Regions from separate parts of the Homo sapiens genome. Here region 2 is linked to region 1. The links come from fine-mapping of genetic effects on gene expression. Tissue or cell type: cerebellum. Region 1 holds a variant in brackets; the other region holds the start of a gene. All regions are shown on one strand. Distances are between the middles of the regions.

What was found. PIP is the estimated chance that this variant, and not a neighbour inherited with it, causes the effect.
Region 2: NDST3 starts here. The variant in region 1 is fine-mapped to the expression of NDST3 in cerebellum (GTEx, PIP above 0.99). The same link has a PIP of 0.9 or more in cerebellar hemisphere.

Annotation. Positions count from the first base shown.
Region 1 is chr4:117,768,690-117,776,883 of GRCh38, forward strand. No RefSeq gene overlaps it. Among named protein-coding and RNA genes, the nearest start is that of LINC02264, 62 kb to the right of the region's middle. RefSeq lists an enhancer at 4,171-4,671. The variant C/A (reference allele first, on the strand shown) is at 4,614.
Region 2 is chr4:118,030,600-118,038,793 of GRCh38, forward strand. It overlaps NDST3 (N-deacetylase and N-sulfotransferase 3), which reads left to right and starts at 3,887. Exons shown (of 14, transcript NM_004784.3): 1 at 3,887-3,993.

The DNA.
Region 1 (8,194 bases):
TTCCAGAGAAGGTTGGCCAATATGAAAACTGTGGCAGAAAGCCTGATGTTCCTTGATGACCTGGGGCCAGGCTCATGTAACCCATTTCAAGAGTCCAAAACTCAGTCACGTGCTTAGCAACTAATGACAAAATCCAAACTCAAAATACTGGTAGAGTGCACAGGAAAGATATTACATGAATCTGTGTAGAATTCATTAACAATATATTTAAACTATACAACTCTCTTAATAAAAATAGAAAAGTCAAGATGCTATGTAAATATCATTGGTGTATTCCAAAGCAAAAATTTTGGAAACATCCATACTTTTTAATTGAAATATTGATGAATAAGGTGAAGAGTTTGAGATTTAGCTTTATAATGTATATTGCATTTTAAAAACAGTCATAAGCCATTCTTAGAAGAATAGGAAGTGTCTGTGATTTTAAGATGCTGCATTATATGCTCAATAGTAAACCAGATAAATATGGACCCTACCCTTGAACTCGACATATACTAGGAAATATAAATATTAAAAAACTTAGTTACTCTTATTTCAAAAGAGGAAACACTGTTTTAGAAGCAAAAAGTAGGGAGGAATACAAGTTTGTTGTGCTGTTAATTAAATCAGCTATACTACACTCTACTCACATGTAAGTTTTTACATATAACCTAGGAAGGAATGTGTATGCATCAGTGGGAAGAGAAGTACTCTGCACTGGTCAGACAAAACATTCAAATCAAACCTGTTCATAAATATGCTGGAAGTCATTGTAGGCAGTACATTAAGAGATTTAGGGTAGTCAGAAGACAGCATCTGCCAAGAAAGACCACAAATTCAGTTTTTAAATGTTGATTATGAAGTAACACAACATATAAGTGAAAATGTCGATGGAAAATCTGGGGAGGGAGAGCACGCCCAAAGATCAGAAAAATTTGGAAATGTGGATGCATATTTAAACATAATCTGTAAATACATAGATAATGAACATGTCAGTGATTACAAGAAAAGGGAATAGAAAGAAAATAGAAAGCTTTGTCTAGTTCTTATAAAAATACTATAAAATAAAAAGGAGTTATATGTACTCCAGTACAATGTTTTCACTCAAGAATCCCTTATCATTTGTTGTGTTTGCACTGAATATGCCATAATTTTAAAATACTTCTTCCCTATTCAGTTAATTATCAAAATTAAAACTGGTTAAATAACAGGGTGAAAACATATTATTTCTATTTCATAATAAATGCTATTGCAAACTATAAAAAATAAATTCTAACATATCCTTACCTAGTAAATACATGTGAACTACATTTATAGCAAACAAATGCACTGAAATAAATACACCCTAAAACCTATGATTCTGTAGTGGTCTGAGTTATGGAAAAGGTGGTATCCCAAAGACTGAAAATAATCTCAGACAAGGAAATACAGACCACTGTTGATAGGGACAGGAGGCAGAGAAATTCTAAGCAGAAAAGGGCAGGTCCCTGGTGAAGTCCCACCCTCAAGCCACAAAGCCTGAGACCATGGCACAAAGTGAGAACTTATATCCGTGTTTTCCTGCTCCAATGTTGCCTTTTTCAAAACAATGCATGGTCCACCCTGCCCCCCATCCTGTGCCCATAAAAACCCCAGGTTCAGCTGGCAGAGTAGGGAAAAGCAGCTGGACATTAGAGACTATGACTGGATGTTGGAGAGAAGCAGCTTGACTTCAGACAGACAGCTTGGTGATGTAACTTCAGAAAAGAATCTGGCTGGAGATGGCTGGACTTCAGGGGAACATTACCTTACTGCCCCTTTTCCTTTTCAGTTCCCCTTCCTGCTGACAGCCACTTTCACTAGCAATAAAATCCCCTGCATTTACTGTCCTTCACTTTATTCGTCTGACCTCATTTCTCCTGGACATTGAACAAGAGCTTGGGAGCCATGAGTGTGGATACAAAAGGCTGTCACATTGACCCTTTGCCAAAAATGCAGAGAGCCCACTGAGCTGTTAACACTTAAGCCATCATAGATGCTAGAGCTAAAAGAGCATGGTAACACTCCCTCTGGGGCTTCAGGGGTTGTGGGGACACCCCCTTGATGCTTCTGTGGGGCCTGTGTGCTGTTCGTTCCTGCCAGCACCCAAAAGTGCTTGCCCCAGCTCCTGCACTCTCTCACCTGCATGCTCCCTCCCACAAGGGATGAAACGCAGCAGGTCCAAGTGAGCAGAGTTCACCCCTGCCAGTGCCAAGGCAACCAGCTGGTTCCAGCACTCATGCACTCCAGTTCCCACCTTGTTCACTGATGCACTCCCTCCCACAAGGAGTTGAAAGCTGTGGGTTGAGTTAATGAGGCAACCTTGTTGTGAGTCCCATGAAGGGGTCAGGAAAATATCCTGCTTCACCAGTAACTAAAGGCTTTTAGCTATATATATTCCAGCAAACCAAGACAAAAACCAAAATTAACAGGTAAAAGCATGATAAAAAGGAATTTCAGTTGGTAAGAAAATTGTAAAGCCCAGCAAAGTAACTACATCTATTACCAGAATAAGAGAAATGATATAAAAAAGTTTTAAGCAAAATGATGTAAATACAGTGTCCAGATTAAATGTTAAAAATTGGTAAGTGAGAGACAGTGGGAAAAAATAAATGAGACAGATCATTTTATGTTACTTCAATATTTGTAAATAGTCTTTCATTCTTATCAGTTAGAGAAAGTAAGGTCCAAAAATCAATTTAACTGTAATGATGTTTTTCCAAATGAAAGAAAAAACTTTGTTTGGCAAAATCTAGAACTAAATGATTGGGTTGGGGAAGAGGGAACATTAAAAACCAGGAAAATAACTTAGTTTAATATTTATCTGATGTTGAATCTGAGAGAAGCTTTTCTAAAAATAAATGCAAATACATAAAAAAGAAAAAATCAGTAGATATGATTGCAGAAATTTTTAAAACTATGTATCTAAAATAAAACATTACATTGAAAGGTAGATGACAAACTGAGGGAGATTATATAATGTATGCAGGGCACATAAAGATAATACATACATTATATAAACATATAATATTTATTTAAAAATATAATATATTTCATATTAAAGTCTTATAATTAATTTTTCTAAATTTGTGGGACGTGGAGCAAGATGGCCAGAGTCTTCCAGCGATCGCTCCCCCTGCAGGAGAAGCAAACTGAACAACTATCTACACAAGAAAGCACCTTTATAAGAACAAAAAATTGGTTGAGAGATCACAGTACCTGGTTTTAACATCATATCAAGGAAAGAGGTACTGAAAGGGTAGGAAAAACAGTCTTGAATTGACAAGATCACCTTCCCTCATCCCCCTTCAGCAACCTCATGACACAGAGAGAATCTGGAGAATCTGTGTCCTTGGAAGAGGGAGAGTGCAGACATTAAGGGACCTTGCATTGAAATTCAGTGCTAACTGAAAACAACAGAGGGCAGAATTCACACTGGAAAACAACAGAGGGCAGAATTCAGCCAGTACCCAGAAAGGGAGCACTTAGATCAGCCCTAGCCAAAGGGGAATCATTCCATCCCGGCAGTTGGAACCTGAGTTCTAGCTAGACTCACCACAAAGGGCTAAAGTGCTCCGGGGTTTGAAATAAATTCAAAAGGCAGTATAAGCCACGAGAATTGCAATTCCTGGGCTAGTCCTGCTGCTGTGCTGGGCTCAGAACCAGTGGATTTGGGGTGCACACAACCTAGCGAGACACCAGCTGGGGTGGCCAAGGGAGTGCTTGCATCACCCCTCCCACAACCACAGGCAGCACAGCTCATAGTTCTGGGAGAGACTCCTACTTGAGGAGAGGAAAAGGAAGTTTAAAAAGTACATTGCCTTGCAATCTGGATACCAGCTAAGCTACAGTAGAACAGGGCACTGGGTGGTGTCCTGAGACCTTATTCTGGGTTCTAGCTCCTGGACTTTTCTGGACACATCTTGGGCCAGAAGGGAACCGGCTGCCTTGAAGGGAGGGATCCAGTCCTGGCAGGATTCATCACCTGCTGACTAAAGAGTGCTTTGGGCCTTAAGTAAACATCAGAAGTACCTAGGCCATATTCAACACAGTTCTTGGGTGAGACCCAGAGCCATGTTGGCTTCAGGTGTAACCCAGCCCATTCTCAGCTGTGGTGGCCACAGACAGAGACTTCCTCAGCTTGAGGAAAGTAGAGGGAAGAGTAAAGGGGACTTGTCTTGCAGCTTGGGCACCAGCTCAGCCACAGTGGAGTAGAGAACCAAGCAGGATCCTAGAGTTCCCAGTTCTAGGCCTTGGCTCCTGGATGGCACTTCTGGACATGCTCCGAGGTAGAAGAGAAACATTGCCCTGAAGAAAGAGACCGAAGCCTGGCAGCATTCACCACAAGCTGACTGAAGAGGCCTTGGTCCTTGAGTGAACATCAGCAGTAGCCAGACAGTACTCACTGTGGGCCTTCTACACGAAGAAAGAAGAGGGAAGAGTAAGAAGAACTTTGTCAAGTGTCTTTAGTGCCAGCTTAGCCACAGTAGAATAGAGCACAGAGTAGATTCTTATGTTTCCTGACTCTAGGGCCTGGCTCCCATATGGCATTTCTGGAACAGCTCCGGGCTAGTGGGGAGCTTGCCAACTTGAAGGGAGGGACACAAGCCTATTTA[C/A]CACCTGCTGCCTGAAAAACTCTTGGGCCTTGAAAGAACACCAATGGGAGCCAGTCAGTGGTCATCACAGGCCTTGGGTGAGACCCAGTGTTGTGCTGGCTTCAGTTCTCAATCAGTGCAGTCTAAGTTATGGTGGCCACAGAGGGACTTGAGTCACCTCTCCCCCAGCTTGAGGCAGCTCAGCACACAGAGAGACAGACTCTGTTTGTTTGAGGGAAATAAGGGAGAAAAAAGTTTCTGCCTGGTAATCCAGGGCATTTTCTTGGATCTTTCCCAAGACCACCAAGACACTGCTTCTACAAGTCTGCAAGAATCACAATGTTACTGGACTTGGGGTAACCACTAATGCAGATATGGCTGCAGTGACAAAGGACTTAGATCACAACACTAAATTCCCTTTGAATACTTAGAAAGCCTTCCCAAGAAGGAGTACAAACAATCCAGACTGTGAGACTACAATAAATACCCAAACATTGACAAATATTCACAAGCATCAAGACTACCCAGGAAAATGTGACCTCACTAAACAAACTAAATAAGGCACCAGTGACTAATCCCAGAGTGACAGAGATATGTAATTTTTCAGACAGAGAATTTTAAAATAGCTGTTTTGAGGAAGCTCAATGAAATTAAAAATAACATAGAGAAGGAATTCAGAATTCTATCAGATAAATTTAACAAAAAGATTGAGATAATTAAAAAATATCAAGGAGAATTTCTGGAGCTGAAACATTGAATTGACAAACTCAAGACTGCATCAGAGTCTCTCAACAGCACAATGGATAAAGTGGAAGAAAGCACTGAGGACAGGCCATTTGAAAATACATAGTCAGAGGAGACAAAAGAAAAAATAATGAAAAGAAATAAAGCATGCCCACGAAATCTAGGAAATAGCCACAAAATGGCAAATCTAAGAGTTACTTGTCGTAAAAAGGAGGTAGAAAGAAAGATTGGGGTAGCAAGTTTATTAAAATAGATAATAGCAAAGAACTTTCAAAATCTAGAGAAAGATAACAATATTTCCAAACTCACTCTATGAGGCCAGTATTACCTTATTACTAAAGCCAGAGAAAGACACGTGAAAAGAAGAAAATTACAGGACAATAGCTCTGATGAACATTGATGAAAATGTCCTCAAAGGAATACTAGCAAACTAAATTCAACAACATGTTAGAAAGATTATCCTTATGATCAAATGGGATATATCCCACAGATGGTCCAACCAGCATATGCAAATCAATGAATGTGATACATCGTATCAACAGAATGAAGGGTAAACCCATATGATCATTTTAATTGATGTTGAAAAAACATTCCATAAATTCCAACATCCTTTATGATAAAAACCCTCACAAAACTGGGTGTAGAAAGAACATAACTGAACACAATAAAAGCCATATACAACAGACTAACAGCTAGTATAATTCTCAATGGGGAAAAACTGAAAGTCTTTCCTTTAAGAACAAGACAAGGATGTCAGTTTTCACCGTTATTATACAACATAGTACTGGAAGTCCTAGCTGGGGCAATCAGACAACAACAACAAAAATAAAGGGCATCCAAATTGCAAAGGAGAAGTCAAATTATCCTTATTTTCAGATGATATGATCTTATATTTGGAAAAACCTAGATTCCAACAAAAAAACTATTAGAACATACAAAAGTCAGTAACATTTATATATGCCAACAGCAAACAACCTAAAAAGAAATGAAGAAAGTAATCCTAATTAAAATAGCTAAAAAGCAAATAAGATACCCAGGAATAAACTTAACCAAAACATGGTTACAATGAAAACTGTAAAACATTGATACAAGAAATTGAAAAGGACACACAATAAAAGGAAAAATATTCCACATTCGTGGATCAAAAGAATCAATATTGTTAAAATATTTTTACTACTCCAAGCAATCTACAGATCAATAAAACCCCGATCAAAATACCAATGACATTCTTCACAGAAATAGAACATACAATTCTAAAATGTATATGGAATGGCAAAAGACCCAGAATAGCCAAAGCCATCCTCAGTAAGAAGAGCAAAACTGGAAGAATCAAATTACCTCACTTGAAATTACATTATAGAGCTATTGTAACCAAAAAAGCATGGTACTGGCATAACAATAGATACATAGGCCAATGTAATAGAATAGAGAACTCAGAAACAAATTCACATATCTACAGGGAACTCATTTTCAAAAAAGGTGTCAAGAACATACACTGGGAAAAGAACAGTCTCTTCAATAAGTGGTGCTGGGAAAACTGGATATCTATAAGAAGAATGAAACTAGACCCTTATCTCTCACCACATGCAAAAATCAAATCAAAGTTGATTAAAGACTTAAATCTAAGACCTCAAACAATGAAACTACTACAAGGAAATGTTGAGAAAGCTCTCTAGGACACTGCTCTGGATAAAGGTTTCCTGAGCAATACTCTACAAGCACAGGCAACCTAAGCAAAAATGGACAAATGGAATTACATCAAACTGATAAACTTCTGCACAACAAAGGAAACAATCAATAAAGTAAAGAGAGAGACAACCCACCAAATTGAAGAAAATATTTGCAAACTACCCAGCTGACAAAGGATTAATAACCAGAATATATAAAGAGCTCAAACAACTCTATAGGAAAAACATCTAACAATCTGATTTAAAAATTTATTCTCAAAAGAAGACATATGAATTGCCAACAGGTTTATGAGAAGGTGCTCAACATCATGATTATCAGAGTAATACGAATCAAAACTACAATATTATCCCACCCCACTTAAAATGGTTTTTATCCAAAAATGAGCAATAATGAATGCTGGCAAGGATGTGGAGAAATGGGAACCCTCATACACTGTTTGTGGGAATGTAAATTAGTACAGCCACTATGGAGAACAGTATGGAGATTCCTCAAAAAACTAAAAATGGTGCTATCATATGACCTAGCAATCCCACTGTTAGGTATATACCCCCCCCCCCAAAAAAAATTAGTATATCAAAAAGATATCTGCACTTCCATGTTTATTGCAGCATTATTCACAATAGCCACGATTTGGAAGCAATTTAAGTGTCCATCAACAAATGAATGGATAAAGATGTGGTACATATACACAATGGCGTACTGTTCCACCATTAAAAATAATGAGATCTTGTCATTTGCAGCAATGTGAATGAAAGTGGAGGACATCATGTTAAGTGAAGTAAGCCAGGCACAGAAAGACAAACTTCACATGTTCTCATTTATTTGTTGTAGCTAAAGATTAAATGAAATTGACTCATGGAGAGAGAGAGTAGAATGATGGTTTCTAGAGGCTATGAAGGATAGTTGGTGGGGGATGGTTTATGGGTACAAAAATACAGTCAGATAGAATAAATACGATTTAGTATTTGATGGCACAACAGGGTGACTACAGTTAACAATAATTTATTGTATATTTTAAAAATAACTGAAACAATATAATTGAAATATCTGTAACATAAAGAAATGATAAATGCTTGAGGAGATGCATACTCACCTACCCTGATGTGATTATTACATATTATATGTCTATGTGAAAATATTTCATGTACCCCATAAATATATACACCTAC
Region 2 (8,194 bases), 260 kb after region 1:
CCGGGCACGGTGGCTCACGCCTGTAATCCTAACACTTTGGGAGGCTGATGCAGGTGGATTACCTGAGCTCAGGAGTTAGAGACCAAGCTGGGAAACACTGTGAAACCCCGTCTCTACTAAAATAGAAAAAATTAGCTGGACATGGTGGCATGTGCCTGTAATCCCAGCTACTTGGGAGGCTGAGACAGGAGAATCGCTTGAACCTGGGAGGCAGACATTGCAGTGAGCCAAGATCGTATCACTGCACTCCAGCCTGGGCAACAGAGTAAGACTCCATCTCAAAAAAAAAAAAAAAAAAGAATATATATATATATATATATATATACATATATGTATTGCACAAGTTCATTTGGAGATGACTCTATTTGAAGTGCTTCACAAATGTCTGGCCCTGAATCAGATGGCCTTCTCCACCTCTACTTGGGCACTGCCACAGTGTTAGACTAAATAGGAATACCTCTCTGGAGGAAAATTTTTCGCTGGCCTTAATGTCCCTGGGTTAGGAACAGAAGATTGGAAGGGAGGGCTACAGGGGGCAATGGTTGGCCCTGATGTCTGTCCCTTCTTACCTCTCTGCTGGGCACGCAGCCCAGGAGTGAAAGGAAATATAGGCAACATATCAATCTGCTATTACACTGGCTTAGACGACATATGTGTGCAGATGAGGACTTCTCTAATAGAGGTGTAAGATTTGAGGATCTCATAGGAAAAGACAGCATGATCCTAAGCTGTTTGTAATTCCAGATGGATGGTTGGAAGGAGCAGTAGCTGGTAAAGGTAACAACTCTCCCAAAAACAATGAGAAATTTGATTATGTCTCCTATCCATCTTAGCTGAAGAAAACCCCAAAATACAGTCATAAGAATAGTAAGTATCTTATTTTGTAGAAGAAGTTTTTCTGGTTTTGTGTTTTTGTGCAGAGGAGGTAGAAAAAGAAAAGAAAAAGTGAATATCATTTCTGAATCTGCCTACATTCCCTGAAACATTTAGGAATTTATGAATTCATGAATCTTGTCTATTCTCTGAAATCTTGTAGAAGAGCCTGACCTCCTACAGCTATATCAATATAAGCGACTGAAGGGCAGAGAGTGGTCCTGCTTTTCTTTTTTCAATATTATTGTATTCCCAGAGCCATTTAGTAGGTGTTCAATAATTTTTTTGATTACTAAAATGATGAATGCATGGCTGCTCGGAAGACAGAGCAGGCTCTCTCTTGGGTAAGGAGTACATAGAAAAATAAATGTGGGTTCTTAAAATTCTTAAAAGGCACAAGACTTCCAGGGAACACTCCAACTAAAAAATAAATAAAACCAATCTAATACATGTTACTTGGCCAAAGAATTCTAGCATCCTGACATTTTTGTGGGCTTCCAGAAGGAGCAATTGGTTCAGTCACATCTGTAACCCCTCCATCACATAGAACAAAAAGGATATATAACTTCCTGATTTTAAAACACAATTCCAACTAACCCTTTCAGGACATTGGGTTCTAATTGAAGGTCTTGAACTACGAATCCAAATACCCTGATAAAGTTAATAAACAACCAGAATATTTAATTACTGTATCATCGTTTGTGTCTCTTTCAGTTTCAAGGGACAGCAAATGCAGTCCAAGCTGCCTTAAGACAAAAGTGAATGTGGCCAGTCGCGGTGGCTCAAGTCTGTAATCCCAGCACTTTGGGATGCCGAGGTGGGCGGATCTCGAGGTCAGTAAATCGAGACCATCCTGGCTTACACGGTGAAACCCCGTCTCTACCAAAATACAAAAAATTATCCGGGCCTGGTGGCGGGCTCCTATAGTCCCAGCTACTCGGGAGGCTGAGGCAGGAGAATGGTGGGAACCCGGGAGACGTAGCTTGCAGTGAGCTGAGATCACGCCACTGCACTCCAGCCTGGGCGACAGAGCGCGACTCCGAATCAAAAAAAAAAGTGAATGTATTTGTTTATGAATGAAAATATCCAGAGATAGAACTTATTTCAGCTACAGCTCGATTCCAAGCTCGAAAATCTCCATCTGGGTTTCACTTTTCTCCAACTCTCAGTTCTGCCTTCCTGAGTATCAGCTTTATTTTCAGACTTCAAGCTCTAAGCTCACATCTTCATTATGCAAAGTCCAGTAGAAGAGAGTCCACTTTCTTAAGAGAGGAAGGAAAAAAAAAAGTCCCAGAATGGTGGTTTTTTTCTGTTTTTCTCTCTGATTGGCCAGACCTGGGTTACATACCTACCCATGCTACCAGGACAGAAAGCCATCACTGGCCAGACCTGAGCTGTGGGTCTACCAGTGAGTCAGCAGCGGCTGACATCACCTAAAGCAAATGGGCTGCGGGGTGAGATCAAGTGGTTGGATCTTCCAAAATGAACAGGAGTACTGTTTCAACAAGAGTGAGTGCTGGGAAGCAAAACCACAAATGGCCAATACAAAGTATCATTAGTAGACCCCACTTAATACAATTCACATGTTAGTGGAACCAAATGAAATTTTTAAAAATATATATCATTCGATTCACACTTCTAATCAAACTATAGTTCTGGAGAGGGTAACCTCACACCTTGAATCCAAAATATCTCTTCAGTTGCTGGCCTTCCACTTGTCTTCAGGAGCTGAAACACATGGCATTTGAAAAAAACTGGCGAACAGAGGAAACTCTTGCAGCCTCGCAGCCGCCCTGGTCCAGTGCCAACGGCAGGAGCACCACAGGAAGGGACCGCGCGGGTGCGCCCCACCCTTCCAGCGTCGCCTCGGGGACTCGCACCCCTTTCCCTGGCCGCACAAGACGTTTCATCCTTGGCGGCCGCCGCCAACCCGCCGGGAGGGGCGGTCGGAACTGGCAGGCCGGGGCGGAACCCCCGGGGTCTCCTTGTCGAGGCCCGGGCAGCCAGATCCTCAGGGCCGGTCCGGGCGGGAGCCCGGTCGATGGAGGCGGCTCCCGTCCTCAGCTCCCGCTCCCTCCCCTTCCCCGGGGCGGGCGCGCGCGGGCCGGGAGCTGGGAGGCGGCGGCTCCCGCCCGGGAGGCGGTGGCGAGGGCGGCGGAGGCGCGGCCGGGCGGGTCCCAGGGCCGTGGTTCTCCAGCGCAGGAGTCCCCGGCGCACCCGCTGCGCTCGCCCCGCAGCCGCAGCCTGAGCGGCCGAAGTCGCCACCAGCTGTGTCCGCGCAGATCCCGGGCGCGGAGGGGAGAGGTCGCCCGCTTGTCGCCCCCGCCGGACCCCGGGCACCGCGTAGCACCCAAGCGCCACCCGGACGAGGGGCCCTGGGGAGCGGCTGAGGCCGAAGACCCGAGGGAAGGAGGAGCCCGCGGACGGCTGCAGCCCCAGGTAATCTCCATGGAGGACGGGGCCGGTCTCCTCGCCCAGAAACCCGATCCGGGCGCCTTGGAATGCGGACTCCAGAGGCGGCATCTCGACCAGACAAGTTTCTCGCGGCTTGGAATGAGGGAGTCCTGAAACCGACACTCGTTTTATTTAACCAGCTTTTTTCTCCTGTTTTAAATAAGTTTATTTAGACAATGGAAAGAAAAAAACAAACAGCCTCTTGAGTGACTGTGGGTTTGTAAATATAATCCTAAAAGTTTTTCATGGTGTGGTTATTTGCTTGCTCATATTTATTAACCTGTTAACTCTTCCGCTAGTCAGAAAATTGACATGTAAAATATTCTTTGAGGAACGTTACAAGTTTGCTGTTGTATTCGGGCATCCTGTTATTCATCAGCTTAGTTAGCATCTGTCTTCCCCCGAAGTGGTACCAAAGCCGGTCCCTTGGCGACGGGTCTTGCATGTGACACTCTTGCCCTCTAGTGCCTCACCAGCTTGGTAGCAGTTTGATGGCTAATATTAATAAGATGTTACATAACATGAGAGTACTGGGCCAGGACTGGTGTTGCTACCACTTGTAAAGTCAAAAAGCCTGAGCCGATGGTAACGAGTGGTACTGTTTCCGTTTCTTTTCCATCTATTGCAACTTTCTCAAGCATTTTCAGCTCTGAACTTTAATTCCAGGTAAGTGTATTTATTTATTTATACTGTGCATTAATGCCTCACTCATAAATGTAGGGGCTTTTAAGAGATAACAACTTTGCTTTCAAATAATCTAAAAATTTCAAGATTGAACAAGTGCTTCATTTTATTCTTGAAGAAGAAATATAGAGTATTTTGATTAAATTAAGTGAAACAAAGGACCGTCTCATTCAGGGATGATTTTAAAGCTTCCCTTTCATAAGATTATGGTACTAAAGAAATGACCTCTTGTAATTGTTTAAGATATTCACCAACTTATAATGATTCTGAAGTAGATCTGTTTAACAGAACACATGTCTGTTGCCTTGACAGAATTTTGTAAGGAATATCAGAGACTTTAAACTACCTGCCTATCTACACAGTAATGATCCTCAAAAGGCTTTCTATTTGATGCAGTTTATAGACATTATTTAAAACTATACAATTAATAAAATTAAATGGAAATGGAAAGAATCAATCTAGGTATCAAATACAGAAACTTTAAATTTAAAGAAAACAGATATATCTTCTATTTAATATATCCATTTTGTGGGGGCAGGTAAAAGCAAAGTTACATCTTTAAGGGGTTTACTCAGATCCTTTTTCAAATAGTTTTTCTAATAGCTGGATACTGTTTAAGCATCAGAGTTATTTAATGTCGAAAATGTATTAGTATCTATATTCTTTATAAACATATTGAAATATAGCAACATGTAATCTGGAAGAGTTTAGAAGAAAACCCTTCTAGACAATGCAAACAGCTACATTCTTAATACATTTGTATTAAATTAAAATACAAATCAAATATTGAGATGTGTGCAACTGATCTGGGACACACACTTTTTTTTTGTTTTTTTTTTTTGCCCTTAGAAAATTTCATGTTATCAACTACTGAGCAATGCTGTTCACCACCAGAGAGCAGGATGATATGGCAGAGAAACTCTAGAATATCCGATATTCAGCTGAAGGGAATTTTTTTCCCTTTTTCTTCATCCATACCTTCCTATCAATATTATATTTAAGATGGAGATTTCAAATATAAGTTTGAAGGAGGCTCCTTTTTAAAATAGTACTGAACATATAAAGAGGCTTGCCTAAGATAAGCTCTTTTTTTTCTTTCTCTGGTTAACACAGTATCTACCATTTCTAATTTTGTTATCATTTTTCTTTATCATCTTGATGGTAAAACAGAAGATTTGTTTCTTTGTGTAAATAATGTTAATTTTGAGCTTGTCACATGAGTTAATTTTCTTCATAGTCTTTAAAATGAAGAATTCTTACATTACTAAAATGTTTTAGATAAAATAAAACTTTTATCTCTTTCTGGAGATATTTGTTATAGTTTAGTTTGGTGGAGTTATATATACCCTCTTTTTAAATTAATTTTCTTGAGAAAAGCATTATTTCTGAACATTGAGGCAAATATTAATTTTTGGTGTAACTGAAAAGTTTGTTAAAAAATATATAGTAGAAGAGATAATCAGGCATTGGAGATTCTTTTTCTAAACCATATATTCTGCTAAAGAAGTTATTATAAGCTAAAATGTAAATATGTAATTGTCTACCTGTCATTTCAAAATTTTAAAACTGTAAAGAAATTACAATTTTTTTTCTTTTAATCTTGGGACTCTGATTATATGACTTCCTTGAAACCTGATTGAGTTTCAGCTGCTTTTTGGTGATTAGAGCCTTAAAAGTGCATTTGTTAAGATGCAAAATATATTTTTTTAAACTATATGTAAATACTTTGTGATTTATATACACTATAAAATCAGGGAAATTGAATTAAGGATAAAAACACTATTCTCAACTAAATGAATGCCTTGAATTTCTAATTGCTTAACAGTTCTGACAGTAAGGGAAAACAGTAGAAGTTTACTTTCCCTGTGCTGTGTCTATTATAAATGAGCATTCACACTGAAATGCATGAACTCTGAACACCTGTCCAGATTAGGAATGCTGCCAGGCCACAAAAGTAACGACCTACATTATAAAGATAATTAGTCTGAACAATCCTCAAAACTATTTCATGACTGAAGTTTCTCGTAAAGGGGTGATTTTAATATTTCTTGGTTTGTCTGTTTGTTTATAGTAAAAAACTATACTCTTAGATACCTGGATATCACAGTGAGTGATTTATTCTTTCATGTTACTCTAAACATTTTCATCGATTTCATGTAAGTTACAGGACAAGAAAAAAAAAGTAGTCAGGACCTACTACAATTAATTAATGTCTATAAGAAATTATTTCCCCAAATCTTCTACAAATTACTGAGGGCTATAATTCTTGATTACCTGTTGCCAAATAAGAGCTTAAAAATCAATTATTGCAGTCCTATCCTAAAACCTTTAAGCATCTCAATTATGGGTATCCATTTTACATGTGTTTCATTGCTGAATTTTTTTTTTCATTAAAATATTTGAAAATAACATGAAAGTAGACCTAAATTCTAGGACTGGCTCTGCCAAGACAGGAGTGGCCTTGAACAGCTCCCTTGCTGGCTCTGGGGCTTGGTTTCTTCACCTGAAAAATGAGGATTCCAGAGACCCTTTTTTATCCTGTTTGTTCAACATTTTAGAAATTGATCTGGAGGCCAGGACGAAGATAGATGAGAAAACATCAGTGAATAATACAAAATTTAACTTGGTGATAAGTACTATTGTCTAGATTTCTGCTAAGTAGAGATGTTACAGTTTTTACTCATAGAATAGTTACCTTGTACCAGGCACTGTTCTACTTTACATATTAATTTTTAGCTCATATAATCTTCACAAAGATTATTTAAGGTAAATATTATTCCTGTTTCACAAATGAGGAAATTGAGGCACTGAGCGGTTACCTACCTGCCTAAGATCACATCCCTGGCAAGTGCTGAAGCTGGTATGCAGTTTGAGTCCGGCTCCAGCACACATTCCTTTAACCGTTATACTACATTGTCTCTCTATAGGTTTCAAATATTTGTTCTTGATATGCCTCTTGATGGAACAGAGGTAATCCATATACCACTCCAACAATTTCCATCACTTCCCTTACATATGAAATACTCATTCATTCACCCAGGAGGTATTTACTAAGCATCTACTTTTGCACCAGGCATAAAGGAGTCCACAGGACAATTAAATGTGGTGCCTTCCCTAGCTAAGTATATACAGTCTAGTTCAGGTGATTTCTTTCTCCTCTTTTGCTACTGCTGTTAGGTTGAGTCTCACTTGTTCTAAAATGTGCCCAAGGTAACAGAAGAATAATTTACCTGACGCCTTTATTGATGTGTCCATAGAATAGAGAGTAATAGAACCTTCAACCTCCTCAAGACTCCCTATATCATATTTTTTCATTATTCGTTTCTACTCTTTTTGCATCATCTTCTCTCTGCAGATTGGCTGTCTTTCCTTATCTGGTTCATGTAACCTGCCCTAAAACATAGCCAACACTGATCTGTAACTTTACATCTAATGGTCCAGGCAACCAATGAGAGGCCAGGTTAACACTCTCTTGTTCCCATGAGTCTAATGAAGGACAAAGAAAAGGTTTGGATTAGACCCTAAAAGCTGCATTGTCAGCACTCACATATGTCATATGTGAGCATGTGTGACAGAATATGTCAGCGTATTTTGATGCATGCATTCTGGTCCAATCTTAGAGGGTAAAGGCAGACATTTTCCCCCTTAAGTCATATAGGGCAGAATAAACAGCAAACAGCAGTGGGGTAGTTTTCTTCTCTTGCATCACTGGATGGCATAACACTGAGGGAGGTGAATAAAACATATTCTTCTCTTCATAATTTCTAATACAAAGATGGAGGGAGAATGATAATAGAAAGTCATTTTCCATTTAATGTACCAAACAAAGCTAATGCCCTCAAGTGCAGCTTTTCTCCCATCCATCTTTTAAAAATTGCAGTTCTAGAGACAGAGTGTATTCTTGGTCATACTCCATGTAAATCAGCTTCTTACTTGCCTACCACAGCAGGGTTTAATTAACATGACACAATTTCACACATTCTTTCCCAAAGAAAAGCTTGCCCTTGTCAATTTTTATTATTATTACTAAATTACTTTTAGCAAGTCCATGTAACATATTTGAGGCCTCCCACTGCATTTTTCAACATTATAAAATATAGTTTTATAGTTCATTCCTTTTTCAGAAAAAGGAATATTGTCAGGATCTTTTAAATATCTTTCATTTATGTTAGAACCTGAAGCT